3 separate regions of the Homo sapiens genome follow, and regions 1 and 2 are each reported to be linked to region 3. Evidence: microRNA targets listed by miRTarBase, many of them from high-throughput screens and not tested one by one. Region 3 holds a microRNA gene; each other region holds the end of a gene's coding sequence. Distances are between the middles of the regions.
What was found. Region 3 holds the annotated microRNA hsa-miR-3159 (UAGGAUUACAAGUGUCGGCCAC, at 1,877-1,898, opposite strand). A microRNA usually pairs through its seed, bases 2 to 8, with sites in the 3' UTR of a target mRNA and lowers its output. Matches are read on the target gene's strand: a 7mer-m8 pairs with bases 2 to 8, a 7mer-A1 pairs with bases 2 to 7 and ends in A, and an 8mer does both.

Region 1: the mRNA of NME6 is a reported target of hsa-miR-3159. Seed matches in the 3' UTR shown: 8mer at 1,493-1,500.
Region 2: miRTarBase lists CTNND1 as a target of hsa-miR-3159. Seed matches in the 3' UTR shown: 7mer-A1 at 2,385-2,391 and 7mer-m8 at 2,155-2,161.

Annotation. Positions count from the first base shown.
Region 1 is chr3:48,291,325-48,295,520 of GRCh38, forward strand. NME6 (NME/NM23 nucleoside diphosphate kinase 6) reads right to left here. Exons shown (of 6, transcript NM_001308426.2): 5 at 3,751-3,911; 6 at 993-3,479. The coding sequence ends at 3,313. It also overlaps the pseudogene FCF1P2. Among named protein-coding and RNA genes, the nearest start is that of NME6, 7.9 kb to the right of the region's middle.
Region 2 is chr11:57,815,815-57,820,014 of GRCh38, reverse strand. It overlaps CTNND1 (catenin delta 1), which reads right to left. Exons shown (of 21, transcript NM_001085458.2): 20 at 4,014-4,100; 21 at 475-3,718. The coding sequence ends at 3,707. It overlaps TMX2-CTNND1 (TMX2-CTNND1 readthrough (NMD candidate)), which reads right to left. Exons shown (of 21, transcript NR_037646.1): 21 at 835-3,718. Among named protein-coding and RNA genes, the nearest start is that of CTNND1, 56 kb to the right of the region's middle.
Region 3 is chr11:18,385,494-18,389,693 of GRCh38, reverse strand. It overlaps MIR3159 (microRNA 3159), which reads right to left and starts at 1,907; the gene lies at 1,834-1,907.

The DNA.
Region 1 (4,196 bases), not on the chromosome of region 3:
AAGCATTCGCTTCATGGTCGCAGACTTCCTTGTTTTCTTTTGCTCTCACATGCTCATGTCATACTCTTATTTTTTTAAGACAGGGTCTCACTGTCACCCAGGCTGGAGTGTGTGCAGTGGCTCAAACTGCACTGAAGCCTCAATCTCTCAGGCTCAAGCAATCCTCCCACTTTGCCTCCCAAGTAGCTGGGACACAAGCATGCACCACCACACCCAGCTAAGTTTTTTATTTTTATTTTTGTAGACACAGGGGTCTCACCATGTTGCCCAGGCTGGTCTCAAACTCCTGGACTTAAGTGATCCTCCCCCCTCAGCCTCCCAAAGTGTTGGAATTACAGGAATGAGCCACTGCGCCCAGCCTATTTTTAGTTTTTATAGAGACAGGGTCTCACTATGTTGCCCAGGCTACAATTGGTTTGCTATAGGCAATAGTTTGTTTTGTTTTGTTTCATTTTGTTTTGAGACGGAGTCTCGCTCTTTCACCCAGGCTGGAGTGCAGTAGCACTACCTTGGCTCACTGCAAACTCTACCTCCTGGGTTCAAGCAATTCTTCTGCCTCAGCCTCCCAAGTAGCTGGGACTACAGGTGCGTGCCACCACACCCAGCTAATTTTTGTATTTTTAGAAGAGACGGGGTTTCACCGTGTTAGCCAGGATGGTCTCGATCTCCTGACCTTGTGATCCGCCCGCCTTGGCCTCCCAAAGTGCTGGGATTACAGGCGTGAGCCACCATACCTGGCCATCTAAACTTAATTATCTCCCAAATGTCCCATTTCCAAATATCATCACATTGGGGGTTAGGGCTTCAACATATGAATTTTAGGGGGATATAATTCAGTCCATAGCACTTTGTCTTTTGGTGGACCTGGGTGCTGGGTGTGGTCATTACTATTGGAGTGTCATTGCTCTCACATCAGTGCAAAGGACTATACATACAAAAACATATTTACATCTATCTCTATAGACTGAAATACACGAGTTCACACTGATATCTCCAATTCGACACCACAGGGTTTATTCTAGTTTTCTCCCTTTCCATATTTGTGGGAGCCAGGTTTTTATGAGACAATTTTATTGGGAGATAATTCTGTGTCTCTTGTGGGTGTCTTAATTGTCAGATTTTGTACGCTTTGACCACCATTTAAATTTTTTAAATGCAACAAAATATCAATTTTGTTGATACTTTGTGGGCTGAGATGTTGACAGATTTTGTTCCAGACTATTTCAAGGATTTTTTTTTTCTTGAGATGGAGTTTCACTCTTGTTGCCCAGGCTGGAGTGCAACGGCGTGATCTTGGCTCACCACAACCTCCGCCTCCTGGGTTCAAGCGATTCTCCTGCCTCAGCCTCCCGAGTAGCTGGATTACAGGCTCGCGCCACCACGCTTGGCTAATTTTTGTATTTTTAGTAGAGACGGGATTTCTCCATGTTGGTCAGGCTGGTCTGGAACTCCCAACCTCAGGTGATCCGCCTGCCTCAGCCTCCCAAAGTGCTAGGATTATAGGTGTGCCACTGTGCCCAGGTATTTCAAGGATTTTTGTACAGCAAATGGCCTTAGAAGACAGAGATAGTATCTCCCTAAGATTGTGGTTCCTTAGCCGTCATGCAAACCTGCAGTGTGTAACACTTTCCTGGGCCTGCCAGTATTGCCCTGTGGGACTTGGAGGGCAAGGGAGACCAAGGCTAACACACTGCCTGCTGTGCCCTGAGCAGTAGTCTCTGCCCAAGTAATCCTGTGTTTTCTGCCAGCATTCATGAAGCTGGCTCCCTAACACAAGAAGTTGTTGAAAGTTCTACTCAGCTTCTTAGCTGCCTCTTCCAGAATCAGCAGGTGCCCTTATGGGAAAAGTAGCTCTAAGTCCCAGGCTCACTTCTCTTGAGTTTCCTTCGTGTCCTGAATTTTGGTTCTATATTGCCAGCTGATGCTTTCAGATAGATGCTGTTTATATTTTGCACAGCTTTTCTAGTTGTTCTCTATGTTCAGTGGGTCCAAATTTCCTGGTCTACCATTAGTGAAAGTGGCAGATGGTGAAGGCAATTTTCAACTCAAAGGTTTCAAGGCCACCAAAAAGAGAAATACACATGTACTGAGAAAGAAAAGTCAAGACCTGTAAGAAGTGTCACAGGTTTCTTAGGTCACACATACAAAACTGACCCATATATTCCTGAAAATGAACAGACTGTCTAGTGCCCCAGACCCCTGCTATGGATACCCTATTTGACCTTCAGGCTTAGTTCCAAAGCCAGCTATATCTTTTATAAAAGACTTTCCACCCTATCTCCTTCACCTCCTCACCCAGCCAAAGGAAACCTTCTTTCCTCTGTTCTCCCACAGGACTTTATACCTCTGTTAGGGCACTTCTCCATCTCTGCCACGTTATAGCTGGCTGACCACCCAAATTCATAATTAGCAACTTGAGGACCCAATCATGTCTTAACCATCTTTGCATTTTTCAGTATGTCTTGAATAGAGAATTTATGAAAATAAATGTTTGCATAAGCTGATAAAGGAGATGAAGAAAAACACACAGAAGGAGAAAACCAAGGGTGTGGGATCAGAAAATCCAAGAGAAGAGAGTGTTTCTGGAGAATGAAGCAATAACTGAATGCTGCTGAGAAGTCAGAATGATGAAGCCTGAAAAGTTTCCCCTAAATGTGGCAGCATAAAGGATTCAGGAGAACACTGACTTTTATTGAGGAAGACAGGTCAAATGTTGTTTGGAGTCACTGCATTTTTTAGGCAAGTCAATTAGACAAGCTTCTTTTTTTTTTTTTTTGAGACAGAATGTCGCCCAGGCTGGAGTGCAATGGCACGATCTCGGCTCACTGCACCCTCTGCCTCCCAGGTTCAAGCAATTCTCCTGCCTCAGCCTCTGAGTAGCTGGGATTACAGGCATGCACCACCATGCCTGGCTAATTGTTGTATTTTTAGTAGAGATGGGGTTTCACCATGTTGGTCAGGCTGGTCTCGAATTCCTGACCTTGTGATCCGCCTGCCTCGGCCTCCCAAAGTGCTGGGATTATAGGCGTGAGCCACCGTGCCCGGCCTGGCAAGCTTCTTCTTGAAGAAGGATGAACAGTTCTCAGCAAAGAGGAGTCATCATTCTTCTGAACCACCATAAACATTCCAGAGAAGAGGTAGATAGAAGGCTAGATCCTGGAGGATGTGCTGTGGTGAGCTAGGCCCTCAGGCAGGTGGTGGTGCCCAGCAGAAATGGCACTGTAAGCCAGGCTTCCCTGGTCCTAGGAGAATGTTTTAGACTAGATGTCTAGGAGAAGTCTGGGCACTACCACTGGTCTTCATAGACCTGCATCAGGCTGGTCCTAGGCCTCCTGTTCCAGCTACATAGTGGACACCTCCCTCTGGGCTATAGCACACAGGGCCACAGCGCAACTGGGGCTCTTCCTCCTCATACCAGCGCTGTTCACTGAAGTCAGGGAAGAAGGCTGCAATCTCTCTGCTGGCTGAAACCACAGAGTCTGTAAGGGGAGATAAGACAGAGAAGGGGTTCTCACATGGTAGAAGCAAGAGGCAGTCATAATCAGGTTCAGAATCCTGAGCCTCTACTCTGCCTGCCCCTTCAGTCCTGGGGCATGTAAAGAAAGTCCACAGGCCACATCTGCCAACATGGCTACAAAGACCAGAAACACAAATGGAAGAAAGCTCACTGGAGGGACCTGGCTGTCAACTCTACCACACAGCCTGCCCGCTAACCCCAAAATATCCTATGGCTATGGACAGGGGACTCACCCGAACCATGGGTGGTGTTGCGGGTGTCAGTGAGGCCGAAACTCCCACGGATAGAATCTGGGGCCACATGGCGTGCTCGGAACACTCTGGTGGGTCCCATGAGCGTCCTCCAGAGCTGGATGGCATCCTTGTGGGCAAGGATGTAGGCTCGGATTGGCCCGCTGTGAACAAAACAAGCACATGTAAAGAACCTGGCCATCTAGACTAGGAGGGTGTGCTGTGAGCAGGGCCTGAATAAAAACACACTCTACGTTCTGAGAGTTTTCCTGCCTTTCCAGCTGAGTACCAATGCTGCTTCAAATAGGTGATGCAGGGCCCCTGCTGGTGTACATCAAGCCTGCAGAGATCAGCAGGGTGGCTATGCAGCATTCAAGGGGACTCTTCTAACCACCAGAGGACAGGTGCCTAACAGGTCAGCATCGGCTCAGTGACAGCCCCAAACCCGT
Region 2 (4,200 bases), 39 Mb from region 3:
TCTACTAAAAATACAAAATTAGCCAGGCGTGGTGGTACACACCTGTAATCCCAGCTACTCGGGAGGCTGAGGCAGAAGAATCGCTTGAACCCAGGAGGCTGAGGTTGCAGTGAGCCGAGATTGTGCCCCTGAGTGACAGAGCAAGACTCTGTCTAAAAAAAAAAAAGTGGCCAAGTGAGGTCCCAGCTTTGACCTCTGTCACAAAGTACATCAGTGTCAAGAAACTTGTGAGATAGGGCCTTTACACATCATTCTGTGTAACATCTCATTGTATTTAGATATGGCACAGAGAGAAGTGTTTTTAAGATCATAGATCTTGTCTATGGCCATATCACCCTGAACGCACACGATCTCGTCTGATCATAGATCTTAGCTATAGAGGATTCTCATGGATTGCAATCTATGAGAAAAGATCCATCTGTTTCACTCTCTAATCTAAACCTAACCTTGACACAACGCTTAGCATATAGGAGGTGCTTGGCAAATATTTATTGAATGAGATAAACAAATGGACCAATCCAGAAGGAAGAGAGAAGAGTAGGGTTTGTATCTAGCTCAATGCCAAAGGATAAGAACATAACAGGGAAATAAAGTGTTGCTGACAAGCAGCCAGGCTTTTCTATTTAGATAAAAATCATCTCAAGCAGGGCTATCAAAACTCTTTGGAAAGTAAACTCTTAATAGCTTTTTGGCTTTGTACTTCAACCTCTAATCTAACACTACAATTGTTAGACACAAATCAAGCTTTAAAAGCTAGTTGATTTCCTGGTCTCACTAGCCCATGAAAGTTTTCATACCCAAGTCCTAGTTCAATAAAACAAGACAGGACCATCATCAGGAGCAGCTATATAATTTTAATCTAAAGATTTGGGCATACAGAAAGCATTTCACATAAATTCTCTTGAGTCTTTAATTATATGACAGGACATAAGGACCTCAGAAAAATAAGTATCTTCCCATAGATCTTAACCCTTGATCTCTGCAGCAAAGATAGTCCCTGGTAATCCAGGTAATATGGTCTGTAAAATATTAATAAATAGGCCTATTGACTTCTGACTAAAGGACTGCATATAGCCTGAGAAGCAACATTATGGCCCAGTGGTCAGTACTTATATACATGGGCCTTTTGATCCTACATTTTCCTATTACGTAGTTGGGATTGGTAGTTTCTAATCTTCTAGTCCTAAGTGTTATATTTAAGAGAGCTACGTATTACAGTGGGCCTTATTCAAGGTTAGTTTTGTCAAATGTTGCAGAAGAATTCCAGTAATTAAAGTAAGTCATTAATTCTTTATGCTTCAGTTTCCTATCTCTAAATTAGCAATAAGCTCCCATGTTCAACTTCAGCCACATTCAATTTTTAAGAATCTTCAGAAGAAAAAATGTTTCACATATAGTTAACAAGAATGTTGCTTGATAAAGAGTTGGGGCTGAGCTCAAAATAAATCCTGGTATAACCTCCTTCTGGTTGCTCTGGAAAGGACACTGATACATAAGGAAGTAACAAAGATGCAAAGCAGGGAAGAAATAACAGCTTGAAGTGAAGAAATGACACAGACCCCCCACATACACACTTTAAAAACTTTATTTATATAAAAAACTCATTTGTTTTTAAAAGCATTAACAAGACAGAAAGAAAAGAGAAAAGGTATGGAGCAGAACACAAGCCCCTTAGTAGTGTTCGGTGGGAAGGTGGGATTTTTGGTTCTCTGGAATTGAATGTTTAGTGTTTTTTATAAACAAAAGAGAGAAAAAAAAGTTAAAGGTCCCCAAAAGCCCACGGCTGTTCTATTACCCACACCCCACCGAGAAAAAAGAGCACCAGGAAAAGAGCAGAAGAGGACAAGAGAGATCAAGAGTGGAGCCAGGTCTGGATGGGGCAATTTTCCCTGTGCAGTGTGCTCTTAGGGTCACAGAGAGCAAAAGGCTCCTTTTTGCCAGAAAAGGTAGATGAAAGTGGGAAGAAATGGGAAGGGGGAAAAGGGTAAATAAGAAATTTTAATGCACGAGTAAAGGGGGTGGTGGGTTGTGCACTTTTCTCCTACCCCATAGCCTCAATATATAAGGGAAGGGGAAGAGAGGGATAAGGAACTCCAGTTGCATGGAACAGAGCTTTTAGATTAGATTAAGGGGAGTAGAAGGCAAATAAGGAAAAGGATTAGAAATAATAATAATAATCAACCCGCATAGCAGCTGATTTCTCTAGCCCAACCTGCTAATTAATATATGCTAAAGTGAGAGGGGGCAATACTGGAGGGAGGGGAGAATTGGGGAGACCACTTCCCTGTAACTCCTTCAGAGATGATGGTAAATTCTGGGCACCTAAGGAGTAAGAGTCACACCACTCACTTCTCTTACCAGCCTTACTTTGAGATTCATCAGAATAGGATTTTTGCAAAATCCCACCCATATGCTGTTGAGCAAAAGCTTGCTATGACTGAAATCATGGCTATACCAATCCTCAATGAAGAATCTGAGGTTCTCTCGGTCACTTCTCTTCTTTCTGCTATTTAGGGCCAATAGTAGGTAAGAAAGCAACAAAATATAATTTGCAAAATTATGAGAAATGAGACTGCAGAGGCAAAGAAAGGCACATGGAAGGGCGGGAGGAGATGCACCCCAGGCCAAAGGCACAAAGAAGAGGCAAAGCCAGGGGCAATCCCCACCTTGTAAGGGAAAAGGGACAGGAGTTATGTACATCAAGTCCTTTAGTTTGCCAACCAATCCAGGGCAGAGGCAAGGGACAGGCCTATAAGGATAGGAAAAGGAGAAACGGGGGAGTGGGGAAGCCAGTTTCAGACTAATTGCTTCATGTACATTCCTACTAGCTCCTCCTAGAGGTCTTCTTCTTCCCAAAAACACATCTTTCTGCTCCTTCTCTACCAAAAGTCTTCCTTGACATTCTCCCCTTTCTACAGCCTCTTGGAAATGGCCAGGCCAACTCAGCAGACATATCACAGGGCAGGAGAGGTGGGTTAAGGACAGCCTGTGTTTAAGGGGCAGCAGCAATAGCCCAGGGTTGGCATGAGGCTTGCAGAAGAGATGGAGTCTGTAGGTTCTTGATGGTCCCTGCCTTGGAGATGAGGAGAGCAAGGTTTCTTAATCCCAGTTTTAGGAGACCTTCACTTACTCAAGGGTCCTTTGCCAGGTGGCATGTGCCAATGTTGCTGGCCTTCTTTGCTTCAAAAATAGCCATTAGGAATAAGGGAAGAGCTCACACTTTCCCCTCTCTAAAAGAAAATAAAAGTCCCTTCCCCATCAGGAAAAAAATCTTGATTAAGAATCGTCAGTTTATCAGACTGCTGGACATTGCATATACAGCATGTAACTTCCAATTCTTCCCACGGCTTCTAGTGAAGATTCCTATTCTCTCCATCCCTCCCCTCCACAAAAGGCCAGGAGTTCCAGGGAAAACTGGCAAAAAGAACTAATCTGCAGCAGTTTCTCAAAATATGCAAATAATTGAGTCAGGTTTCTTGGGAGAAAAATGGAGGGAATGGGGGAGGGGGAGGCGTTGAGACAATTAAACTTCACAGGAAGAAGTTGGGAGTTGATGGAAAGAAGGCAGCCACTTAGGGCTGTAAGGGCAGGAGGCAGCCTGGCAGTTGGCACAATAGTCCAGCGAAGAAAAAGGAAAATCATCAGTCAATTTCACCACCAAAAAATAAAAGTACATATAAGCCCAGATGGAACGGAGATAGTGGTGCTAAATCTTCTGCTGTGGAGAAAAAAGAGAAAGAGAGAATGTTAATGGGGTTGGGATTAAGGAGACCCCCCCCAAAAAAGTTGAGCAAATCTGGAGAAAGGAAAGCAGCACATAACGGAGAATCAGATCACCAGCTGCATGTCCCAGACTCGTAAGAGGTAATAATCACAAAAGCAGAACCCCTCGAGCCCCATGTGGCTGAGACTACTTAGTCTCTGGCCTGATCAGATTAGCGTGATTGACAAGTTGCTGGCACTCAGGAGCCTCCTTCCTCAAGAACAATCTTGGGGGTGACTGAAGGACATACCATGGAGGGGTAAGACACTTGGCCCCCCTCATCATCCAAAACCAACACATCCAACTCTTCCTCCAGAGATTCCTGCCCCTCGTCCTGCTGTGAACACATGCAATTTGTTAGTATGAGTAGAGACAGGAACCTCATGAGTGTGTGCCAGAGCTAGGGAAACTCTGAAAATTTGTAAACTCAAACAAAA
Region 3 (4,200 bases):
ATAAATTAATTCATATTTGTATATGTCTCTGTCACTGAACTGTAAGCTCCTAGTGCAAATAAACTTTTTTTCCACTGGGAAACTTTCTTTCCACTAGGAAAAAATGTTTTCCTAGCACAGGGCAAGAAGTTTTCCTAGCACCGGGCACAGTGGCTCATCCTTCTAATACCAGCACTTTGGGAGGCTGAGGCAGGAGGATCGCTTTAGCCCAGGAGTTTGAGAGCAGCCTAGGCAAAATAACAAGACCTCATCTCTACGAGAAAAAAAAAATTAGCTGGGCATGGTGGCGTGTGCCTGTAGTCCCAGCTACTCGGGAGACTAGGGTGGCAGAATTGCTTGAGTCCAGAAGGTTGAGGCTGCAGTGAGCTATGATCGCTCCACTGCACTCCTGCCTGGGAGACAGAGTGAAACCCTGTCTCAAAAACAAACAACAACAACAACAAAAAGGCTGGGCACGGTGGCTCACCCCTGTAATCCCAACACTTTGGGAGGCCGAGGCTGGCGGATCACGAGGTCAGGAGTTCGAGACAAACTGGACAACATGGTGAAACCTTGTCTCTACTAAAAACACAAAAATTTGCCGGGTGCGGTGGCAGGCACCTGTAATCCCAGCTACTCGGGAGGCCGAGGCAGGAGAATTGCTTGAACTCAGGAGGCGGAAGTTGCAGTGAGCCAATATTGCGCTACTGCACTCCAGCCTGGGTGACAGAGCAAGACTCCATCTCAGAAAACAAACAAAAAAACCCCACAAGTTTCTCATTTATCTCCATAACCCAACACATACATTTATTTGTTTAACAAATATATTTTGAATTAAATGCCTGCTATGTAAAGGGACTGTGCTAGGTATTGGGGATACAAAAATGAATACAACAAACTTATAAGCCTTCGAAGACTTTCGTATTTAGTGGAGGAAACTGACAGCCTCGCCCTTAATAGTCAGAATGCATAAGAGAATGTAACTACTGCAAAAGAGGTAGAGAAAAGTGCTCTGCCATTCAGAGGAGAGAGGGCATTTGGGTAAGGATACCAAAAAAGGCTTCCTGGAAGAGGTAGCATCTGAGCTGCAGCTAGAAGAGGATTTTAATTGGTAAAGATCAGGGGCTGAGAAAGCAGAGAACAAAGCATGAATAAAATGCACAGGGGCAGGAAAATACATGGTGAGTCTGGTTAATCTTTAGCCTTAAATGCCAGGCTAAGAAATTTGGGGGAGACAGGGTATGCTGGCTGACATTTGTTTTTTTTTGTTTTTTTTGTTTTTTGAGACAGAGTCTCACTCTGTCGCCCAGGCTGGAGTGCAGTGGCGCAATCTCGGCTCACTGCAAGCTCCGCCTCCGGGGTTCACGCCATTCTCCTGTCTCAGCCTCCCGAGTAGGTGGGACTACAGGCGCCTGCCACCGCGCCCGGCTAATTTTTTGTATTTTTAGTAGAGACGGGGTTTCACCGTGTTAGCCAGGATGGTCTCGATCTCCTGACCTTATGATCCGCCCCCCTCGGCCTCCCAGAGTGCTGGGATTACAGGCGTGAGCCACCGCGCCCGGCCAACACTTGTTTTTTTGTTCTTGTTTGTTTGGTTGGTTGGTTGATTGTTTTTGAGATGGAGTCTCGCTCTGTTGCCAGGCCAGAGTGCAGAGGCGCGATCTCCGCTCACTGCAAGCTCCGCCTTCCGGGTTCAAGCTATTCTCCTGCCTCAGACTCCCGAGTAGCTGGGACTACAGGCGCGCACCATTACACACAGCTAATTTTTTCGTATTTTTAGTAGAGACGAGGTTTCACCATGTTGGCCAGGATGGTCTCGATCTTCTGACCTCGTGATCCACCCAGATCTGTCTCCCAAAATGCTGGGATTACAGGCGTGAGCCACTGTGCCCAGCCCGTGGCCGACACTTGTAATCCTAGGACTTTGGGAGCCTGAAGCAGGAGGATTGCTTGAGCCCAGGAGATTGAGGCTGCAGTAAGTCATGCTTACACCACTGAACTCCAGCCTGGGCAACAGAGTAAGGAAAGGAAGGCACCAGGATTTTTTTTAGTAATACACAACATACAGATCTACAACATGTACAGACCATATACAGCTCCAACCACATGTGTTCAGAACATACACTTCTCATACAACCCTAGACAGCCCCACAGTCCCTTCAAACCCTCACTGACAGCCTGACTCTTTTTTTTACCTTTTCTGTGGTTGCAAAACTGATGGCTTTCCTGAGTTGCAGGGCCCAAGATGCAGACAACCTCATCAGTCTCTGTTCCTGAGATACCAGGGCCTACTATGTACGTACCAAAGTAGAGGCTCCTCTCTTTGGCATGAGAGCAGGCACCTGCTCCTGAGAAACTCCTTCATGTCCCTCTCCTCATCCCAAGCCCCATCTGTCTCTCAGATGACAGGAATGGATGCCAGAAGACTCCACCCTGACTGTTCAGGTTCTCCTGGGTGACAACCCCTGGTCCCCTAATGCCTGTCTCCTCCTCCTCACCCGCTCCTCCTCCAGGCAAGGCTCATCCTCAGGCACAAGATGCTGCCTGCATTTCCTCTTTTGGCTTGGACCATCATTCCCTCCAGAATTCATTCCTCACACTGTTCCCTAATAAAATCCATCTCAAAAACTCTAGATTCCTTCCCAGCCACTTCCTAACCCAGGAAATAAGTAGCAGCTGTGTCCTTTCTCTCCCTCTTTCCCTGGCTGGGATTTGGGCCTCAAGCTTCCCATCCCACTGAGAAGTTCCAGAGCAAAGACTGTCACCAGAATTTAAGTGACTTCCAAACCCAGGGCCCCCAAAATCAGTGCTGCAGAGGGAGTCCCAAGGCCCCTTCAAGCCAGACAGTCACCAGTGGCACCCACAAGCAGAAACTGTCTGTTGTCTAATCACAGCAGGGGAGGACCATGAAAAGTTGTGATAGCCTTTCCCTCTGACACCTTGGGTGGCAAGGACAGTGATGGGCATGGCGGGACAGAGACGACGGGGCAGCTGATGGATAGGGGACACTGGCCTGGGGGTCAGGAAACATGTATTCTTACCCCAGCTATGTCATGGACACCTGGGTAACATTGTGGCAGTTGCATTCCCTCTGTAGCCTCAGCACCCTTGACTGCAAACATAAAAGGATCTCTCTTGGCCGGGTGCGGTGGCTCATGCCTGTAATCCCAGCACTTTGGGAGGCCGAGGCAGGTGGATCGCTTGAGGTCAGGAGTTCAAGACCAGCCTGGCCAACATGGCGGAATGTCATCTCTACTAAAAATACAAAAATTAGCCGGGCTCTATAGTGGGCTCTTGTGATGCTAGCTACTCAGGAGGCTGAGGTACGAGCATCGAACCCAGGAGGCGGAGGTTGCAGTGAGCCCAGACAGCGCCACTGCACTCCAGCCTGAGCGACAGAGCGAGACTCCATCTCAAAAAGAAAAAAAAGGGCCTCTTTCTTCCAGCTGTAATGTCCAAGGAGGCTCTGCGGTAGTGAGTCCAGCTTCCACACAACACACCTTCATTTTTACAATGCTCAGGACTCAGAGGCAAAGCGCTCCCCATTTTGGGAAGTGATCAGGACTGCTCCTGAGATAAGGGAGAAATGCCTATGGCGACAGGAAACCTATGCCTGCCATCCTCTTGTCCCCCATATTAGTTCCAAAACAGGATCCCAAATGCCCAGTACACTGGTGGGTGTTTGTTAAATTTGTTAACAAAAACTATCTTGGCCAGGCGCGGTGGCTCACGCCTATAATCCCAGCACTTTGGGAGGCCGAGGCCGGGGGATCACGAGGTCAGGAGATTGAGACTATCCTGGCTAACAGGGTGAAACCCCGTCTCTACTAAAAATAATAATAATTTAAAAAATTAGCCGGGCGTGGTGGCGGGCGCCTGTAATCCCAGCTACTCGGAAGGCTGAGGCAGGAGAATGGCGTGAACCTGAGAAGAGGAGCTTGCAGTGAGCCGAGATCGTGCCACTGCACTCCAGCCTGGGCGACAGAGCAAGACTCTGTCTCAAAAAAAAAAAAAACTATCTTGGGCCTGGCGCAATGGCTCACGCCTATAATTCCAGCACTTTGGGAGGCCGAGGCGGGTGGATCACTTGAGGTCAGGCATTCAAGACCAGCCTGGCCAACATGGAGAAACCCTGTTTCTACTAAAATACAAAAATTAGGTGGGTGTGGTGGTGGGCTCCTGTAATCCCAGCTATTCAGGAGGCTGAGGCAGGAGAATCGC